2 separate regions of the Homo sapiens genome follow, and region 2 is linked to region 1. The links come from fine-mapping of genetic effects on plasma protein levels. Region 1 holds a variant in brackets. A gene starts in the other region. All regions are shown on their forward strands. Region 1 overlaps P2RY2 (purinergic receptor P2Y2). Region 2 holds the start of FCN1 (ficolin 1).

Evidence for each region. PIP is the posterior inclusion probability: the model's chance that the variant is causal. Protein levels are from antibody-based Olink assays in UK Biobank. Linkage for the fine-mapping came from a reference panel and not from the study's own genotypes, which makes the PIPs less certain.
Region 2: it holds the start of FCN1, and the variant in region 1 is fine-mapped to the plasma level of the FCN1 protein (UK Biobank, PIP above 0.99).

Annotation. Positions count from the first base shown.
Region 1 is chr11:73,232,006-73,236,393 of GRCh38, forward strand. It overlaps P2RY2 (purinergic receptor P2Y2), which reads left to right. Exons shown (of 3, transcript NM_002564.4): 3 at 2,151-4,388. The coding sequence starts at 2,155. The coding sequence ends at 3,288. Among named protein-coding and RNA genes, the nearest start is that of P2RY2, 16 kb to the left of the region's middle. The variant C/T (reference allele first, on the strand shown) is at 2,291.
Region 2 is chr9:134,917,502-134,921,818 of GRCh38, forward strand. It overlaps FCN1 (ficolin 1), which reads right to left and starts at 411. Exons shown (of 9, transcript NM_002003.5): 1 at 268-411. The coding sequence starts at 370.

The DNA of each region.
Region 1 (4,388 bases):
GGCCATTGTACTCCAGCCTTGGCAACAGAGGTGGACTCCGTCTAAAAATTAAAAATTAAAAATAAACAAATAAAATAAAATAAAGGGAATTATACGGCCCCAGATTCTCAGGATGAGGAGGACTCACTCTTCATCTGCCCTTTCCACCCTCCCAGACACACCCCCACACAGGCACAAGCCCTTCTGCAGCCTCTGCTAGAGAGCCACTTGCATACTCCCATAAACAGGGAGTTCACTACCACCCTCCTACAGCCACTTCCAGGGGCTGGACCTGGACAGATATTGCAGCCCATCCCCAGTGGCATGACCTTGACCAAATAACTTACATGATCTGTATCTTAGCCTCTTGATTGGAGAACTGGGGATGGTGACTTGGCCCCCAGAACACATCATATGGATAAAGTGTAGTAACTTTTTTTTTTCTGAGACAGAGTCTTGCTGTGTCACCCAGGCTGGAGTACAGTGGCATGATTTTAGCTCACTGCAACCTCCACCTCCTGGGCCCAGGTGATCCTCCCACCTCAGACTTCCGAGTAGCTGGGACTACCACCACACCAGGCTAATTTTGTGTGTGTGTATTTTTAGTAGAGACAGGGTTTCTCCATGTTGGCCAGGTTGGTCTTGAACTCCTGGCCTCAAGTGATCCACCCGCCTCAGCCTCCCAAAGTGGTGGGATTACAGGTGTGAGCCACCGCGCCCGGCCTAAGTGAATAACTTTTAGAAAGCATGCTTAGTAGTAGGGTTTGAAAAATGTTAGCTCCTCCTGCCCCTTCACACTGCTAGAAAGTGCTTTTTTGTGTTTTTCTCAAACTTGCCCACCCAGGACTTCTGCTATGATTTCCAACCTGCCTCCTGGGACGTTAGGCACGTCTTTGTCTTCCAGGCCGGGATGTCTGTCCTCTACCTCCCAGCTGCGAGAGAGCTCTTAATTGGTCACCTGGGTAGGGGTAAGGAGGAGAGGGAGGGGACAAGCTGCTCCCTGGGCACTCACTGTCTGTTGGATGGTCAGTCCCCATGGGTGTGTTATATGCTCAGTGGGGACAAGGTTGGGGGGGACACCATGATACTGACGATATGCAGAGAGAAACTGGATAGGCATGGAAGAAGCTGCATTTACCACACAAAAGAAGATCCCTTGGCCCCCTATCCCTATCTCCAACCCAGATTTCCCTGGACTCTTCACGGGGGTTACTTCAGGGGGATTCCCTGGTAGCCTCACAGGCTCAGGGGCAGGACTGCTGTTGATAGATATAGAAAGTGCCAGAATAGAGGAAGATGTAAAAAGTGAAGGAATAACTGAAGAAGGAGACCCTTGGAAATACTTCCTCAAATACCAGAACACTAGGCATGGGCCCAGAGCCTCCCAGAGAGTGGGAAAATGAGCTGGAGAGAACTCTGTAATGCCTGCAGGGGGCTGTTGGATGCCCACTGGCCAGAAATGCCTCTGCAGGCAGTAGGCATTGGGTGTGAAGCAGGGCCAGCCAGCCTCAAAGGCCCCTTCCCATGAACTCAAAATTACCTGCTCTGGCACCCCCAGGTCCTCAGATTCTAGAGCTCAGAATCCTAGATCTAAAACTCTGATCCTGAGGTTCTAGAGAGGGGTAAGAAAACTTCAAGTAGCTGGGACTACGGGTGTGTGCCAGCATGCCTGGCTAATTTTTAAAAGAATTTTGTAGAGATGGGGTCTCACTTTGTTGCCTAGGCTGGGCTTAAACACCTGGTTTCTGCCTTGGCCTCCTGAGTGGCTAGGATTATAGGCATGAGCCACCGTAGCCAGCTTGAGCTAACTTTTTTTAAAGGTCAGATAGTGAATATTTTAGACTTCACAGGCCATATGGTCTTTATCACAACTACTCAACTCTTTGTAAACAGATGGGCACCGTTGTGTTCCAACAAAGCTGAATTTACAAAAGCAGACTGGATCTGGCCTTTGGACTATAGTTTGTCTACCCCTGTTCTCAAGTTTGACAATTGTGTGATCCTGATATTTATTCATTGATCTCATGCATTCTCAAGGTTCCAGAGCTTGGAGGTTCCAGGTCCAGATCCAAGTCAGATGGCAATGAAAGCCCTGGTCAGGTGGCTGTGTCAGGTCCCCTAGGGGCGCTCCGGCCACAACCCTGATGGCCCCACCCCTCCCTTCCCTGCAGGGCGATGGCAGCAGACCTGGGCCCCTGGAATGACACCATCAATGGCACCTGGGATGGGGATGAGCTGGGCTACAGGTGCCGCTTCAACGAGGACTTCAAGTACGTGCTGCTGCCTGTGTCCTACGGCGTGGTGTGCGTGC[C/T]TGGGCTGTGTCTGAACGCCGTGGCGCTCTACATCTTCTTGTGCCGCCTCAAGACCTGGAATGCGTCCACCACATATATGTTCCACCTGGCTGTGTCTGATGCACTGTATGCGGCCTCCCTGCCGCTGCTGGTCTATTACTACGCCCGCGGCGACCACTGGCCCTTCAGCACGGTGCTCTGCAAGCTGGTGCGCTTCCTCTTCTACACCAACCTTTACTGCAGCATCCTCTTCCTCACCTGCATCAGCGTGCACCGGTGTCTGGGCGTCTTACGACCTCTGCGCTCCCTGCGCTGGGGCCGGGCCCGCTACGCTCGCCGGGTGGCCGGGGCCGTGTGGGTGTTGGTGCTGGCCTGCCAGGCCCCCGTGCTCTACTTTGTCACCACCAGCGCGCGCGGGGGCCGCGTAACCTGCCACGACACCTCGGCACCCGAGCTCTTCAGCCGCTTCGTGGCCTACAGCTCAGTCATGCTGGGCCTGCTCTTCGCGGTGCCCTTTGCCGTCATCCTTGTCTGTTACGTGCTCATGGCTCGGCGACTGCTAAAGCCAGCCTACGGGACCTCGGGCGGCCTGCCTAGGGCCAAGCGCAAGTCCGTGCGCACCATCGCCGTGGTGCTGGCTGTCTTCGCCCTCTGCTTCCTGCCATTCCACGTCACCCGCACCCTCTACTACTCCTTCCGCTCGCTGGACCTCAGCTGCCACACCCTCAACGCCATCAACATGGCCTACAAGGTTACCCGGCCGCTGGCCAGTGCTAACAGTTGCCTTGACCCCGTGCTCTACTTCCTGGCTGGGCAGAGGCTCGTACGCTTTGCCCGAGATGCCAAGCCACCCACTGGCCCCAGCCCTGCCACCCCGGCTCGCCGCAGGCTGGGCCTGCGCAGATCCGACAGAACTGACATGCAGAGGATAGAAGATGTGTTGGGCAGCAGTGAGGACTCTAGGCGGACAGAGTCCACGCCGGCTGGTAGCGAGAACACTAAGGACATTCGGCTGTAGGAGCAGAACACTTCAGCCTGTGCAGGTTTATATTGGGAAGCTGTAGAGGACCAGGACTTGTGCAGACGCCACAGTCTCCCCAGATATGGACCATCAGTGACTCATGCTGGATGACCCCATGCTCCGTCATTTGACAGGGGCTCAGGATATTCACTCTGTGGTCCAGAGTCAACTGTTCCCATAACCCCTAGTCATCGTTTGTGTGTATAAGTTGGGGGAATTAAGTTTCAAGAAAGGCAAGAGCTCAAGGTCAATGACACCCCTGGCCTGACTCCCATGCAAGTAGCTGGCTGTACTGCCAAGGTACCTAGGTTGGAGTCCAGCCTAATCAAGTCAAATGGAGAAACAGGCCCAGAGAGGAAGGTGGCTTACCAAGATCACATACCAGAGTCTGGAGCTGAGCTACCTGGGGTGGGGGCCAAGTCACAGGTTGGCCAGAAAACCCTGGTAAGTAATGAGGGCTGAGTTTGCACAGTGGTCTGGAATGGACTGGGTGCCACGGTGGACTTAGCTCTGAGGAGTACCCCCAGCCCAAGAGATGAACATCTGGGGACTAATATCATAGACCCATCTGGAGGCTCCCATGGGCTAGGAGCCAGTGTGAGGCTGTAACTTATACTAAAGGTTGTGTTGCCTGCTGAGCTGTGCCCTATTGTGTGGTCGGGGGATGAGGATATGGCAGGGAAGCTTTCACCAGCCACACAAGGGTCCTTTCTCCAATCCGTTCCCTTCTGCCACCTGCCTTCTCACTAGCTGTCTCAGGAGTAGTCTCATATCAGGGATCCTCTCTCCAGGCCCCAGGTCATCCCCCACTGTAAAGCCAGTTGGCTTCTGTGCCTGACTCTGTGCTGAGCACAGAGAAAAGTCAGGTGCAGTCCCAGTCCTTGAGATTTCCCAGTTTAGGTGATGGCCAGTCATGTGCTGGTAAATGTTAAGCCATTTAACTGGAGCTCCGATTTAACTGGGAACCCCTTCTTTGTAGAACTGCCCATTTCCATGGTGCAAAAACTCTTATGGCCAAATTCAAACTATAAACATGATGTCAACTTCCTTGTAAAATTCCTGAAAATTTAACAATTGGTTCTTGCAAGCAGGTACAA
Region 2 (4,317 bases), not on the chromosome of region 1:
ATTCCAGACCCACCTATGAAGCTCCAATGGGCAAATCCTGGGCTTTCGAGGCAGACAGACCTGGTGACATCCCTCCCCTATCCCTCCATGACCCTGGGCAATGCCTCAGCTGCCCTGAGCCTCCATGTCCTTGCCTGAGGATAAAACAGATCTGTTGGGCATCTTCACAGGAAGATGTGCATAAAAGGTTTTGCCTGGGACACCCGAGTGTCAGTGAGTGGGGTTGTTACCAGCTTTTAGGGACCAGAAAACCCAGGTCTGTCTCACCTGGACATGTGTCCGCAGCCTGGGCAGGCAGGTTCTTGATATGCAGGAACAAGACTAGCAGGACAGCGAGCCCCCGGGCCATGGTGGCTCCACTCAGCTCCATGCTCTCTGGCCTTTGACTCTGAAGAGTCCCCCAGCTCTAACAGGGCAGAGGAAACCAGCTCTCGCCTTGTGCCACAGTTTCTCAACTCCCTGGGGGACACCCACTTCCTATGGGCTGCTTAGTTGCACCAACAGGAGGTATGAGGTCATCTCAAAGGATGTTTCCTTCCACTAGGCTCCAGCAAGATGCCCACCCCATTGGGCTCTCTTCCCCCAGCAAAGACACCCTGCTCCCAGTCCAGAGAGCTCCTGAGACTCCTCTGCTGGAAAGCATCGGCTTTGCTTGTGGCTTAAGGAGAACACAGCCCCCACACCCCCTTTCCATTCCCCAGCTGTCCCCAAGCAATACTCGGAAACCTTGACCTTAACCTTGGGGGATAAGGAAGGTTTTGCTGAAGACGCTTCCTTGCCTCATCTGTTCCCAGAAAATTCAGGGTTTGTCCGTCATCAGGCACTTATCATGGATGGAGAGGAAAAAAATGTTGAGCACTTGTTATGTCCCAAATACTATTTCCATCATATCATCTTGCACCAGCCCCATTCGGTGGAGTAAATTATTTGAAAGTTACAGCTGGAGAAATTGAAGTCACTCCACTAGTAAGAGCCAGGCATTGGACTCAATTCTGTCTAACGCCTTGTAGATCACTGGGATTGCTCATTTCACCTGAAGGTGGGGATGCCTCTTGTTCCCCCAAATCCCTGAGGCCATGTTCCTACTCCGCATCTCGTGCTGTGAATCATGCTTAGCCAGGCCACGCTGTGGACACTTTGTGCGGGATTTTTAGAACGTATAGAAATAGTCACTAACGAGAGTCAGATGGTAGCAGGACTAAGGAGCAGGGAGAGGTGTTGTTTTGTGGTTTGCAACTTCTCTGAGCCAGCGTGTGTAGACTGGGTTTCCAAACTCAAGGGCTCCCCAGGTGGGAGAGAAGTGGAGGGGCGGCCCAGGGGTGGGGGATCCAGGAGACACAGGACCTTGTGTCCAGGCTCTCTGGGCACCACAACGACTCTCGACTGTGTGTGTTTGTGTGTGTTGGCTCCAGCCTGTTGAGAGACAACGGCAGGAGGCTTCATTGCCTCAGACACCGCTTAGTGTCCCTGAGCTACTGGCCCAGGCGGGAGAGGTCTGGGTGTCAGTGGTGCGGCCTCCTTTCTTGGAGAGGATCCAATTCAGGAGCAGCACTCACCTGGGATTGGGTCAGAACAGGGAGAAAGCCAGCAGGTCTGTGCCCCTCAATTCCATTTGCCAGCTGCCCCCTGGGTGTGAGGGGACCTCCTCTTCCTTGCAACATCAATAGGTTTATTTCAGGTGAGAAGTCAACACCACCTTCAGATATCAAGTCAATGTTCCCAAGAGTATGAAAGAATGCAAGATTCTGGCAAGTTAAAATATCTTAACATTGGATCAACAAAAGTCATTTGATTCCTGGCAATGGCAGTTTAGGTATTTGGGGGCATCCTATTAAGGACAAACAGACAAAACCTTTAAAAAGAGATTTGCTCGAAGGCACCGTCAAGCTAGCTATGTAGTAAAGGATTACTTTGCCAAGCTCTCAGGAGCCACAGAAATCTTAGAGAAGTGAAACTAGTAGTGGGGACCTCTTTTTGCACAGGGATTTGCCAATCTCCAAAAGAGAGGTGAGAAGTTGGGCAGTGATTTCACCATCTTGCAGAGCTGAAGGTCAAAGACTGGGGCCTACGGCCTGCCAAAGGTATGGGTTTGGGGTTGGCTTTCAGAAGGGCTGCACCCTAGCAATAGGATGAGTGAGCAACAACCAACATTCACAAGGGCTGCAAACTGGTTTTGAGACATCTAAGTGTCCCAGGAAAGGAATCTCAACTCCTGGAATTATTGCTCATGCCCCCAGGCTCCTTGCTGAAAGAAACAAAAATCTTCTCTGAAGGAGAATGACATCATCCCAGGTCATTATTTCTGCAAAGTGTTTTATTTTTTTCAAATGAAATGTTAAAACACAATCAACGATAACCAGGCTCATGGGAATAAAAGACAATGTGTATAAGGACCAACAGAAACAACAGAATATAGAAAGAGGTCTTTGGAAGCTGTGGATACAGAAGTTACAACATAATTAACAGGAAAAATGGAAAACCATCCTCAGAGACTGAGAACAAATAAGGATGCTTGTCATCACCACTGTGGTCAACATTGTATTGCATGTCACTGTCCAGTGCAGTAGGCAAGAGAACAAAACCATAAAAAGATTGGAAAGGCAGACACAAAGTTGTTATTTTCAGAAGACATGATTGAGGATGTAGAAAATTCTAGAGTTTCTACAGATAAACTAGCAGAATAAAAAGTTTAGCAAAAATCAATTGTGCTTCTAAAAACTAGCCTCAAAGAATTTAAAAATGAAATTTAAAAAATTTGCATCAGCAACACCAAATTCAAATAACTGTGAATAAGTCTAACAACATCCATGCTGGTCTTCTGTGTACAAAACTATCAAATAGGAACAGAAAGACCTAAAAGAAGATTAAAATAATTAGAAGGATATTCTATATGTGTGGATTAGAATACCAAATATAGGAAAAACATTCATCTTCTCTTAATTTATCTAAATATCCACTGTATTATCAATTAAACTACCATTTTCTGTGACAATTGACATGGTGAATTTAAAATTTATATAAAGGGCCGGGTGCAGTGGCTCACACCTGTAATCCCATCACTTTAGGAGGCTGAGACAGGTAGATTACTTGAGGTCAGGAATTCAAGACCAGCCTGGCCAACATGGTAAAACCCTGTCTCTACTAAAAATACAAAAATTAGCTAGGCATGATGGTGGGCACCTGTAAACCCAGCTACTTAGGAGGCTGAGACAGGAGAATTGCTTGAACCCAGGAGGCGGAGGTTGCAGTGAGCCAAGATCGAGCCACTGTACTCCAGCCTGGACGACAGAGTGAGATTCCATCTCAAAAAATATATAATATATATATTTAGCAGGGTGTGGTGGTACATGCCTGTAGTCCCAGCTACTCAGGAGGCTGAGGTGGGAGAATTGCTTGAACCCGGGAGGTGGAGGTTGCAGTGAGCCGAGATTGCACCACTGCACTCCAGCCTGGGCAACAGAGTGAAACTCTGTCTAAATAAATAAACAAATAAATAAATAAATAAATAAAATTTATATAAAGGCAAGAGGCTGATAGCCATGCTATTCTTGAGCAAGAAAAAACAAGGGTGAGTTGCTTGAAGTGACACCAGCAGTCATTATCAAGCGATAGTGATGGAGACAGTGTGGGGCTGGCTTAGGCGTACACAGCAAACCTAGGGAAGTGAGTAGGGAGTGCAGAAGCAAATCCAGGCACATACGGACCCTAGATTTATGACATGGTGGCTCTAAAGAGCAATAGTGAAAGAATAAACTTTCAATGAGTGGCACAAACTACTGGAGAGTCATATGGAAAAACAAGAAGTTACACTTGACTTTTATCAGATGAAAAAAAAATCCACATCAGGAGAAGGGTAGACCCAAATGTGAGAGGGAAAACAGCAGTTTTAGATCATATTATAAGATCTCCAATAGCCTTGCAGTTATTTTAAATAAGATGGAAAACCACAAACCATAAAGGACAAGTGGAAAAATTGATCATGAAAATAGTATTATTTCTTTTTCAAAATACACCACCGTGGGAGGGAAAAGACGAGCCAGGGTGAGGGAAGAGAGGTTTCAACACACAGAAGTGACAAAAGGCTTGTATCCAGAATAAAGGGTTTCTGTAAATCAACGATGTTGTAGAAAGTGGGAAAGTGACTTCAACAAACGCTTATAAAAGATAATATTTAATAGATGATGGAAGTATGAAAACATGCTCAACTTCATAACTAATCCAAGAAATGAAAACTTAAATCTCATGAGATGACTGCAGACACTAAAATTTTTCTAAACAGCCAACTCTGCAAGGTTTTGGTGAAGAAGTGTCAGAAAC